2 linked regions of the Homo sapiens genome follow. The protein of the gene in region 1 interacts with the protein of each later gene in a biochemical or structural test. Each region holds a gene or a part of one and is shown in the gene's direction. Other genes may lie near its edges.

The links.
Region 2: the proteins of FBXW8 (region 1) and TRIB1 form a complex in vitro, tested with the Homo sapiens proteins (one study listed by BioGRID).

What each region holds. Positions count from the first base shown.
Region 1 is NC_000012.12:116,913,950-116,921,154, forward strand, and holds part of FBXW8 (F-box/WD repeat-containing protein 8), read left to right. Parts: intron 1-4,581; coding exon of another isoform or gene 4,582-4,782; intron 4,783-7,205. UniProt on the Homo sapiens protein: Substrate-recognition component of the Cul7-RING(FBXW8) ubiquitin ligase complex, which mediates the ubiquitination and subsequent proteasomal degradation of target proteins.
Region 2 is NC_000008.11:125,433,295-125,439,045, forward strand, and holds the end of TRIB1 (tribbles homolog 1), read left to right. Parts: intron 1-22; coding exon 23-315; intron 316-2,711; coding exon 2,712-3,177; 3' UTR 3,178-5,109; downstream 5,110-5,751. UniProt on the Homo sapiens protein: Adapter protein involved in protein degradation by interacting with COP1 ubiquitin ligase. The COP1-binding motif is masked by autoinhibitory interactions with the protein kinase domain.

The sequences.
Region 1 (7,205 bases):
CAACTTTTGGGGCACCTCTAATTTTAAAGAGGACTTTGTAGGCCAGGTGTGGTGGTACACACCTGTAATCCCACCACTTTGGAGGCCAAGCCAGGAGGATTGCTTGAGCCCAGGAGTTCAAGACCAGCCTGGGCAACATAGTGAAACCCTGGTTCTACAAAAAATTTAAAAAATTTAGCTAGGTGTGGTGGTGCACCCCTTTAGTTCTAGCTACTTGGGAGGCTGAGGTGGGAGGATCGCTTGAACCCAGGAGGCTGAGGCTGCAGTGAGCCATGATTGCACCACTGCACTCCAGCCTGGGTGACACAGCAAGACCCTGTCAAAAGCAGGCAAAAAGCAAACTTTGTGGCTGGGCAAGGTGGCTCATGCCTGTAATCCTAGCACTTTGGGAGGCTGAGGTGGGTGGATGGATCTCTTGAGCTCAGGAGCTCAAAACCAACCTGGGCAACGTAGAGAAACCCCATCTCTACAAAAATTGGCCAGCGTGGTGGCATGTTCCTGTAGTCCTCACTACCTGGGAGGCTGATGTGGGAGGATTGATTGAGGCCAGGAGGTCGAGGATGCAGTGAGCCGGGATCACACCACTGCACTCCGGCCTAGGTGACAGAGCGAAACCCTGTCTCAAAAAAAAAAAAAAAAAAAAAGGCTGGGCCTGGTGGCTCATACCTGTAATCCCAGCACTTTGGGAGGCTGAGGTGGGCAGATCACCTGAGGTCAGGAGTTCGAGACCAGCCTAACCAACAAGGAGAAACTCTGTCTCTACTAAAAATACAAAATTAGCCAGGCATGGTGGTGGGTGCCTGTAATCCCAGCTACTCAGGAGGCTGAGGCAGGAGAATCTCTTGAACCCAGGAGGCGGAGGTTGTGGTGAGCCGAGATCGTGCCATTGCACTCCAGTCTGGGCAACAAGAGCAAAATTCCATCTCAAAAAATAAAAAATGAAAACAAGACTTTGCAATCATTAGTAACACTGCTATAAATAAAGTTATAATTCATTGTGTGCGTAAACTGTCTCCTTGGTACTGTCTTAAGGGTTTAGAGACATTATCGTCTTCATTTCTCCCAACAACTCTCTCCAGTGGCTATTTTCAACTAATCTGTAGATGAGCATTAGGAAAGTAACTGATTTTTAGATAATAAACCTACTCCTTCTCTCCAGGCTGATAAATGATGACAAGGTTTATGGAAAAGGCTTGGATTCCTGTGTCAGTGGTTGCAAGCCCCAGAGCCCACAGGGCTAAGGCAGGTAATGCACGTGAGTGAGGTAGGCTGGGTGTTGCACATTAGGTCTTTTCTCCCAGCTCATCAGGTGTTTTTATGTGTTCTGGTCATAGCTTTATAATTCGTTTCATAGTGGCAGCTGTTCTTTTTGTCACAATTAAACATGTAGGAATTGTCTTTAAACATGGCCATCTTGGTCTTGTTTTCCCACTTTTAAAAGTTTTTAAGCTCAAACTATGTATTGACCTTTACAAGGGCCTAAATACACAGCTTGATGAATTTTCAAGTGTACACATCCATGTAAACAGCAGCCAGGTCACAGGGCAGCATCACCAGCATGTCAGAACCACCTCCCCTGCCCTGTGTTCCCTTCCACCCAAGGGTAACCACTCACCTGACTTCTCTTCCACCCAGGGGTAACCACTCACCTGACTTCTCTTCCACCCAAGGGTAACCACTCACCTGACTACTTTTTTTTTTTTTTTTTTTTTTTTTTTTGGGAGATAGAGTCTTACCCTGTAACCTAGGCTGGAGTGCGGTGGCATGATCTTGGCTCACTGCAACCCTGACTTCCCGGGTTCAAGTGATTCTTGTGCCTCAGCCTCCTTAGTAGCTGTGACTACAGGCATGCACCACCACGGCCTGCTCATTTTTGTATCTTTGGTAGAGATGGGGTTTCACTATGTTGGCCAGGCTGGTTTTGAACTCCTGGCCTTGTGATCTGCCCGCCTCGGCCTCCCGAAGTGCTGGAACTACAGGTGTGAGCCTGCATGCCTGGCCTCACCTGACTTCTAACACCACATTTAGTTTGTTTGTTTTTGAACTGTATATTAAGTGGAGTCAAACAGCACATACTCATGTGTCTTTGAGTTCTCGTGTATGGCATTATCTGTGAGATTGATCCCTATGAATATGCCACATCTTATCTACTGTTGATGGGAATTGTTGCTAGTTTGTTGATAGCCAGTTTGGGACTCTCAGATATAGTGCCACCATAAATGTTTTGTACATCTTCTGAAAAATGTGTCCACATTTTTCCTGAGTATTCATTTGGGAGTGGAATTGGTGAGTCATAAGGTATGCATAGATTAGCCTTGGTAGATACTGACAGTTTTCCAAAGTAGTTGTACTGGTTTTCTCACTTTTGATAGTAACTTGTGTATGTGGAATGTAGTATTTCACTTTCTTCTTTACCATAAATCAACACCCAGCTGAGATGACATGACAGCAGAACTTGACCCCAGCATGGGCAAGATGATAAAGACACATTGGGAAATACATGCCATGGCTGGGGTCAGGGTAATAACCACTGCCCCCATTAGCTGGTTGTTGCCCTGTAGGAATGTGGTCCCAGTGTTGTAAGGTCTTTAGATTTTTTTTTTTAATTGGGAATATGTATTTTTATGTGGACTCCTTCAGTTTTTTCTGCATGAGAAAACCATCCAAGCTGGGCATGGTGGCACATGCCTGTACTCCCAGCTGCTGGGGGAGTTGAGGCAGGAGGATCACCTTAGCCCAGGAGTTTGAGACCAGCCTGGGCAAAATAGATTCTGTCTCACTTAAAAACACCATCCAAAACGTTGGCTTAAAACAACCACGATTTAGCTCACCATTTTGCAGGGTGGCAGCTTGGGCTGGGCATGGGTGAGCTCACTCGTGTGTCTGAGGTTAGCTGTGGTCACCTAGGCTGCTCTGCTTCTAGGGGTTGGCTAATTGTGCGTGTGTGTGTGTGTGTGTGTGTGAGAGAGAGAGAGAGAAAGAGGTGTGTATCTGGGTTATGAGTCATCATACAGCAGCTTAGCTTAGCCCCAAGTGGGCATTCTCAGAGTTACAAGAGCAGCAAGAGGGCGAGCCCCAGTGGCCAGATGCAATGGTGCTTTTGAAGTCTGCATAGGTCATGTTTGTTATTCTCATGTGGCCAAGTCCAGAGTCAGTGTGGATTTACCCAAGTGCTTGGATACAGAGAGACATGAACAAATTTGGGGCCATCACTATGTCAGTCTACCTCAAAAGCTCTTCCAATTTTTAATTGTTGGTAACTAATAAAAATTAATAAGATTTTAGGTGCTAACATTGCAGGTTAAACAAAACCTGTCAGTGGGCTAGATCTGCCTTGGGTAACCATTTTATCATCTTTGCCTTGTGCCTTCCCAAGAATCCTTGCTTGATCCATGGGTGGCTCCTGAAAGGAAGAGTTAGTTCCATTTGAGACTCCCTAGAATCTTTAACAGAAGCTGATCCACTTGACATGAATGGGAAATAAAATCTGGTACTACCTTCTTACACTTCCTCCCTGCCCCCGTTTCTTCTCCAACCTTTGGCACTTTCATTAGTGCACCCTGTTGTATTTCTGGTGCAGTCTCCTCCACTTCAGAGTCTTCAGTATCCATCACTAGAGAGAGAACAACTAATAAGTTAGCAATCAAAAGTGAAGTTGCCTTTGGATGGGTAGGTGAGCAGTGCTGCCTTGGAGTGTCATCTGGCTGGTATAGGCCAGAACCTCTGATGGGCAAGCAAAGCTGACATGAAAACGCAGGACTCACTGGGCATGGTGGCTTATGCCTGTAATCCCAGCACTTTGGGAGGCCGAGGTGGATGGATCACGAGGTCAGGAGATCAAGACCATCCTGGCTAAGACGGTGAAACCCTGTCTCTACTAAAAAATACAATAATTAGCCGGGTGTGGTGGCACGTGCCTGTAGTCCCAGCTACTGGGGAGGCTGAGGCAGAAGAATTGCTTGAACCCGGGAAGCAGAGGTTGCAGTGAGCCGAGATTGCGCCACTGCACTCCAGCCTGGGTGACAGAGCAAGACTCCACCTCAAAAAAAAAAAAACAAAAAAAAAACAACGCAGGACTCCTCCCAAGCCTCATGTTTTATGAAGCTTTTAGTAATAGCACTTAGCAGCCATCTCTTTTTAGGTGATGAGTTGGGAATACCTCAGTTGGCACCTGATAGAGTTCTTAGTATAAGTAAACTAGTGAAAGAACACATCCCTGGTCAGAATTTCAGAGGCAGTAGGCACTTTCTCTGTTGTCTTCTCTTCTCCTCTGTTCATAAACCCAGGCTTCTTGGAGATAGTGGATATACCTGAGTATAATTGCAAGTGTGCTGCTTTCTTCAGTGGAGTGGCTGTGATACCAACTTGCTTGGGCTCCATTTTTATTTAGGTGGTGTATCAGGACTCTGGGCTGCAGGCAACAAGCACCCAACCCAAACTGGCTTAAAAACCCAAACTGGAATCTATTGATTCCTGTAACTGAAAATTCCAGGTGGTAATGTTTGTTCTGGGTGCTTACCTAAGGTAAGTAGGATTTGCCTTCTCTTAATCCTGCTTTCCTTTTGTTGACTTTATTCACAGACAGGCTTTCCTCTTGGGGAAAAATGGCTACCAGCAACTCTAGTCTTCTATCTGCTTAGCAACTCAAGGGAAAGAGAGCTGCAAGTCATGAACCTAAATTCCCATTGCTGCAAACTGGGTCATGTGTCCACCTTTCAGCCAATCACTGATTCAAATTGTTCAGACTCGAATCCATTGCCCATTCCTGAAGATGAAGGTGAGGTCAGCTCTGCCTAAATTGTGTTGACTAAGAGTGGGAGTGGGATGGTTTCCTAAATAGAGGAAGTGGATGTTGGGCAGGAAAAAAGAGCAATAACTGATATCCATTTTAGGTGGGTGTGTGACGCAGCACTAACTGAGAATACAGTAGTCCCACCTTATCCACTGGAGATACATTTCAAGACCCCCGGTGGGTGCTTGAAAATGCAGATAGTACTGAACCCTGTATATGCCATGTTTTTTTTTCCTATATACACAGAGCAATGATAAAGTTTATAAACAAGGCACAGTAAGAGATTAACAGCAACAACAAAATAGAACAATTACAACAGTATACTATAATGTTATATGAATGTGGGCTCTCATAATACTGTACTGTAAGTAACTGATGCTATGGAAAGCAAAACCGCGGATAAGGGGGGACGACTGTGTTTTCTGTTCATCCAACATATATTCATTGATCAGCTCAGTGCTGGGGAATCAGCAGTAAACAGAATGGCTCCTTGTCCTCAGAGAGCCTAAAGTCTTGTTTCTTTTAACTAAAAGAATGACATTAATGGAGTCAGGACAGTCTTGGCTATGGGGCTGGGCTCTGCAGTCAAGCAGACCTGAGTTCAGATTCTGGCTCTGCTGTTACCAGTTTGCCTTGGGCAAGTTAATTTCCCCTGCCTTAGCTGTCAAATGATGATGATGTTAGTACCTATCTCGTGAAGAGGCAATGAAATAGGCATGGAACTTAGCACTGAGCCTGGAGTACAGTAAGGGCCCAATAAATGTAAGCTGGTGCCATTATCGTTAGTACTCAGAGTTTGCTATGCTATTTTACTTCCTCTTTACTGAAGCTTATCACCGATAAGCCCTTAGCTTCCGCCTCTTGTGAATCCCTGGAGGGCAGGATCTGTTGCCTTACTGTTCTAACTCCACCTGCCTTACTAGTACAGTAGGGGCCCTATCTATGTTTGTTGAGTTGAAATAATGTGGGCAAAATTGCTGCTTCTGACTGCGACTTTATAAAGGCTCTATGATTGTTAGAACCCTTGAACATTCAAAGCATCCTTCCAGGTTAAGATATGGAGTTTTAGGTCTGCTGAAAGTTTTAATACTGCTGGCCAATATTTATCACTCACCATGTCAATATTTAACCTGTCAGATCCTGCATCTGTGTTGCCAACAAGATAGATTTAATGGCTTAACCTTCTTCTGTTTTTAAGTTAAACACAAATAAGTAAGCTCCCTAATGTGAACACTTTTCTTCTGGCTAATATGCAGTGAGACAGCAAACCAAACCAAATGTGTACTCATGAATTGACTTAACTGGAATAACTTCCTTTCCTCTTTCCTGTTCTTTGCCTGCCTTTTAAAGCTCAGCTTGAGTTCTGTCTCCTGTGTTAATTCTTCCGTGATTTCTCCAGCCCAAATTTCTCCCTTTCCCCCAACTAAAAAGTTCTTATCCTCAGTGCTGTTCATTTTTTCATGTTATTCGTGAATTAGCAGGCCTCCACTTACGAACCTTTTGAAATGATGCCTGTGTATACTAGAACAACTTGTGACTTACATGCGGTCTTTGTTGGAACGGTCTGCTGCTTGAAGCAGCTTGGGTTTCATTCATATCCCACAAATATTTATTAAGTGTCTTCTTGGTACCAGCCACTGTTCCAGGCACTGAGAATATAGCATTGAACAAGGCAGAAAAAAGCCTGTGCCCTTGTGTAACTTACATTCTGGGGAAGAGGGAGTTAGACAATGGACAAATAATTGTCAGGTAATAAATAAATGTTCTGGAGAAGAAATAAGCAGACAGGATAGAGTGTATCTGCCAGGGGAGGGGCTGTAATTTTAAATAGTGCTGTCCAACAGGGTCTTTCTGGGAAGGTCACATTTCATGGAGAACCTAAAGGAGGTGAGGAGTGAACATACAGAGATCTGGGGGAGGGGATTCTAGGCCAAGACGGGCAAGTGCAAAGGTTCTGTGGTGACCAGGACCCGCACTTAGTTTAATGCTCTGTTGCCTTGATCATTTGTAATGATCTTAATCATTTGTGACCAACAGGCCCCCCAAATTCTATAGCCAATCCTGATGGTGGGAATGTGCCTGCAGTGTTTGGGACCCTTAATGTGAACATCTTTACTCTTTTCACAAACCCACTGTGGTTTCAAAAACCACACCCACTGTGGTACCCCTCTGGGACCTGAAGCTTCTCCTCTTCCTGTCTTCTCTCCTCGCCATGTCCTAAAGCTCAGATCCCAGTTTAGACTAAAAGGGGGCTCAAAGCAGAGGCCCAGCCCATTTTGCTTCACACCACCCTCCTTCACCACCACACCCAGCCTCCTGGGATTTCCCCCAGCACTTGCATTTCTTTAGATTGGCATCTTCTACCTTCTTTCCTTGCCAGAGTCCCCAGGAGAGTGAGAATATGTCTTGAAGC
Region 2 (5,751 bases), on another chromosome or scaffold:
CGGGCCCCCCTTCTCTCTACAGGTGTTTCCCATTAAACACTACCAGGACAAAATCAGGCCTTACATCCAGCTGCCATCGCACAGCAACATTACTGGCATTGTGGAAGTGATCCTTGGGGAAACCAAGGCCTATGTCTTCTTTGAGAAGGACTTTGGGGACATGCACTCCTATGTGCGAAGCCGGAAGAGGCTGCGGGAAGAGGAAGCCGCCCGGCTCTTCAAGCAGATTGTCTCCGCCGTCGCCCACTGCCACCAGTCAGCCATCGTGCTGGGGGACCTGAAGCTTAGGAAGTTCGTCTTCTCCACGGAGGAGAGGTGAGCGGCCGCCACAGCTTCTCCTGTGGCCTTTTGGAACCAAAGCGGAGGTGCAGGTCATGTAGTTAGGTGCTGTGTGTTGGTGCAAAACAAAGTCAAGGGCTCATATGTCCCAGATTTAGTATTTAGAGCTTCTGTTCCTGAGGAGTCACAGCCAAGGTTGGTTTATTCTGCATTCTCTTGGACGGGGCCTGGGGACACCGTGGCGCTTCTATGGGATGGCAAGTGTTGACAGGGTGCTCTTCCTCTCCTACCCCAGGATCAGGTTCATTCCCCATTGTTGTCAGAAAGGTCAGTTGTCTGGGGTACAAATATTAAACTGCCCTTTACGATATTGCCTTCTGAAGGAAGTGTTCAAATCTTTGCTTATGCCAAGTGCTGTTTTGTACCTGGAAGGTTTCACAGAGCTAGTGAGACTGTCATATATGCAGAATTCCACCCTCTTGTTTCACACAGCATTCCTCTCCCATCCCAGTCCAGGTTCTCTGTAACATCACATTCTCTGGTGACTTTTTAGACAGCTTGTTTGGATCCGTCTTCAGAAAATAGCCACATTGAATAGTAAATGGAAGTTGGTTAGGATGGATTGCTAAATATAGATCATAGCTTACCTCATAAAGAACAAGATGAGCTTGATAAGAGAGTAATGAGGCATTAAGATTCAAAGCTGAGGTTTCAGCTAGAGAATTCAGGAAGCCGCATGAGATAGACCACACTTGATTTTAAGAGCCAGCCACATCCCTTGTGGAAAGATTACAAGCAGTAAGGCTGTAACATTGTAGAGGTGAGAGTGAGTTAGTTTGTTGTAAGAAGTGGGCTTATCTCACCTGTGCATTTTTACCTTTGACTCCAGAGCATATGAAACAGTACAGGGTTGAGCTGTCATAAAGCATGACTTTGTATCTGACCTCGCAATAATTATTGGAACACACTGATTAGCAAAGAAAAGCAAACTGTTGGCAATGAAGAAGTTTCTAATTCCTGGAACATGCTCCTTTGATATGGTGATGCATTTTCTGAAACATGCCTTACACACCTCCTTACTAGCTTTTGAAATCTGCATTGCACAGGCGAATATCATGGGCATGGGGTTTGGCAACCCGGGGGTTAAGCAATGTCAGGCTGACGCTATTCGTGTAACCAGCACAGGTGCAGGGTTTTAGTGCTGTAGCAGCCAATCAGGGGCAGACAGTGTGGGTTGAGTCATATTTTCCGTTTACAGAACCAATGGGTATTTTACATAACGACAGGGAGGTCACGCTGAGGACATACTGAAGTTAGCACATGTATACTACACTCCAGGGAACAGGAAGGCAGAAAAAAAAAAAAACAGACCTTTGAGAGGAAAAGGAATTGACCCATCAGCCAGTACCAAATGTTTGCATTTAACTTCACAAGTGACTTACTGAAACGGGTATTTCAGAGAAGCAGGCAGAGACAGGGTGTCACTGGATATCAGAGCTTCCCCACCACATGGCTTTGAGCTTTGGGGGATCCAGGAGACTTGGGTGGCTGGTTCTGAATAAGGAGGCACCTGCAGCTTCATAAGAGAGCCTTTGACTGAAGGTGTTTTAGACTTTCGTTGTTACCTGAACAGAGACCCCCCCTGTAGAATACATATGCTCACATGTTGATGTGCCATCCCAGGGGGAGTGTGTGTCCCTGTGTAAGAATTTCAGGGTCCCTGCGTCCCTGAAATCCATCAGCCACTTTTGTTTGCTCGCATAACCTCTCTGTCCAGGCAAAGTGTTCTTTGCAGTTAAACACCCCAATAAATGTAATTAACATTCCTTGCAACTTTCCCATCCTAATTGTTGCAGCCTGGGCCCAGGAGGACAAAGTTTGCTCTGTGTGCATGTATCAGTGTGGGCACCAGCGCTGATGACCTGTGTGTAATAGCAGTGACTTTGGGCTCCGTGTTCTGTAATGCAGTGTGGGTCCAGGTAGCCCTGGCAGTCATAAGAGGGAAGATGGGTTCGTAGGATGCTCAGGCCCTCTCTGAAGAAGTAGGATATGCTGCTCTTCCCTGCTAGCTTTTGTAGAGAATGCAGCATTCTGAGACAGGCTCCCAGTTCTGCAATGGGAACTTAGTAAATTGCGTAACTCCTATTAGGATATCTCTTGTAAGCTCCAGCATTATGAATACTATTTGGGGCTTTGCCTCATACCCTCCACCCCAGGCGCTCTGCCGATACTTTGCAAACATTTATTGCAGTTCGTGTTAGTTTGTGAAATCAGGAGCCCTCGGTAGTTGCAGGGCACTGCTTACTGGACGAAGGGGTAAATAGCATTCCTGGAGCCTTTGCTGTTAGTGCCTGTGGGCGCTGTTATTGGGAAGGCTTTGTTTTTCATAGCAGCTGGTGTGGAAATAATGGCTTGGTTCCTCTCTCTTGCAGAACCCAGCTTAGACTAGAAAGTCTAGAAGACACACACATAATGAAGGGGGAAGATGATGCTTTGTCAGACAAACATGGCTGCCCAGCCTACGTGAGCCCTGAGATCCTCAACACCACTGGGACCTACTCCGGAAAGGCTGCGGACGTTTGGAGCCTGGGGGTGATGCTCTACACCCTTCTGGTTGGACGATACCCCTTCCATGACTCAGACCCCAGTGCCCTTTTCTCCAAAATTCGGCGTGGACAGTTCTGCATTCCTGAGCACATTTCCCCCAAAGCCAGGTGCCTCATTCGCAGCCTCTTGAGACGGGAGCCCTCCGAGAGACTCACTGCCCCCGAGATCCTACTGCACCCCTGGTTTGAGTCCGTCTTGGAACCCGGGTACATCGACTCAGAAATAGGAACTTCAGACCAGATTGTTCCAGAGTACCAGGAGGACAGTGACATTAGTTCCTTCTTCTGCTAATCCCCAAAACCTCAGAAACCTCATAATTCTTAACACCTGGCATTTCCATTTCTAAAGATGGACAGGCCCTTTGGCGTGGTACCAACCAGATAATGACTGCATCAGGATGAAAGCTGCTGAACTCGGCATGGCGCCTCCTCTTCTCTGTTGGGATGAGTGACTTTATTGATTTGAGCAGCATATGCTGTGATTGGCTGCCCTGCAAATTTGTTTCCCTTAAGGAACCCTCACCAACTATCTCTGCTGGATTTGGGAGTTCCGCATCTTTTGTGGAGGGCAGAGTATGGACATCTTACACCCGGTGGTCAAGTGTGTAATAAACTTGAGCATTCGAATGGGAGAAAAAGCAAATCGCACAATGACATATTTTGAGTAATAACCGTATTTTTCACAGGGTGACAAATTGGGCCAATAAATCTGCCATCTTTGAACTCATCTTTGGTGGCTAGACTGCTACGGCAGCTTCTCTGATGGGAAAGTTCCTTTTTTGGCTTAACACTCACCCTTTCTTCACACTCACATTTACCAATGACTCTGCTCCGTTTTTGGAGCAGACTGTTTTAAGTTGCTCAGGAGCCTGATGGAACCATGAACCGAGACTCTTCTCTGTTTCCTGCCAAGACCTCATCTGCACTAATGCCTTCTCCCTGACCTTGACACTTCCCCCTTTAGCTATAAAAGCACTTACCAGCCGAACGTGGAACAGTATCACAAAAGATTCCATCTCCCAACGATTTCAGAACTCTGAGCTCAGAGAGACTCCAGATTTTAAAAAATAATTTGAGTGCTTGGAAACTATTAGCTTTTTAAGTTCCTTCCAAATATGTTAGTACCTACCCTTTACTTTTTCCCCAAGACCATCTCAGGGTGGAGCATTCTGTCTAAGAGAAGAAAGATAAGGAGGCTCCCACCCACCTCTCCCAAGAGCAGACATTAAACATCTTTGTGCTTTGAAGAGAGTGAATTTTGGATAGTCTTGTGATTCTCAGACTAACTTCCAGAATTATACTTTAACCCCTCCCAGATATGGTCCGCCTTTGGCATTGTGTGTACATCTGCAGTTTTGCATGGTGGGTTGTTAATATTTCAAATGTGTGGTTTATGAATACGTCTGTATAATCGGCTTCTGGAGTGAAACAGCAAACCCCAAATCTTCAAAGTTGGAAGGAACTTTAAAAATCATCCGGTCCAATCTCTTTCCTCTTTCTGCCACCTCCCAAGGCAGAAATCCCCTCTTCAGCTTCTTTTGTAGGTGGGAATCCAGCCTCTGTTAGATATGTCCAGAGATGGAAACTCACTCCCCTACAAAAGATGGAGCTTAATGGAGAAATTGCAACTTTCATTAAAAAACAAATTCAGATGAAATATCAGTAACTGTCTTGGACAGTGCTGAAATCAGGTGGTTAAACGGGTAAACAAAATATACTGTATTTTGAGAAATGGCACAAAAACAGGCAGTCATCTTTAAGGGCTATGCCTAGGCAAACTACTAACATGCATTGTGAGAATGCCGTGTATACCTCACGTACTGTGTACTTTGTACATATATTTTACCTTTTATACCTATGTTCGATTTTGTTTTGTTTTGTTTTGTTCTGGCTTTGAGGCTTGTTTTGTTGTCTGTGTCTGTCTGAATAACCTGCGTGTCTAAAACCACGTGAAATGTGAATGATTATTGGCAATATTACCTTGACAGAATCATGGGACTTTGAGAAGAGGGAGGACAGAGGCCTCTGTCGCACTAACGCTCTCGTGGTTGCTCGACTGTTGTATCTGTGATACATTATCCGACTAAGGACTCTGGGCTGGCAGGGCCTTCTGCCGGGAAAGCTAGAAACACTAGGTTCTTCCTGTACATACGTGTATATATGTGAACAGTGAGATGGCCGTTTCTGACTTGTAGAGAAATTTTAATAAACCTGGTTTCGTAAATAGGTGTGGTGAATTTCTTTCGAGTTCCATCTGCTTTGCCTTTTGCAATTTCATGCAGAGGTTGCAAAGGTCTCTGGCCTCAGGACTTACAGTCTAGTTGGGGGTGAGCAGCAAGGGGAAGGTGGAAAAGTAGAGATGATGAGGATCATCGATGACCTTTGGCAGACTTGAACCCATTTGCTTTTCTCATTTCAGTGGGCAAATTTATTTTGATGGATGAAGCCCATTGGGTGTTGATACGTGCTTTGGGTTGAATTTAGACTCGGGAAACATTTTTTATTTTTTATACTCTTTCATAGCAGAATCAGAATCAAGAAACGTTTGAAGGTGAGCATTCATAAATTAACCTTGAGTTGTAAAAATCAGCTTGTCTTTTTTGGGCCGTGGACCCTTGAGAATTTGATAAAGCTATGACCACTCCTGAGAACAGTGTCACATGTATAAAACAAAATTTTGTTATCATTGCAGAGGTTCACACAGATCTCTGAAGGCATCATGGGACTTCCGATTGTGAACCAATCCCTCTTCATTAGACTTAATTAAAATGGCTAAGCAAACCATTTTCTTTTTTTTCTTCTCTTATTTTTTGAGACGGAGTCTTGCTCTGTCGCCCAGGCTGGAGTGCAGTGGCGCAATCTCGGC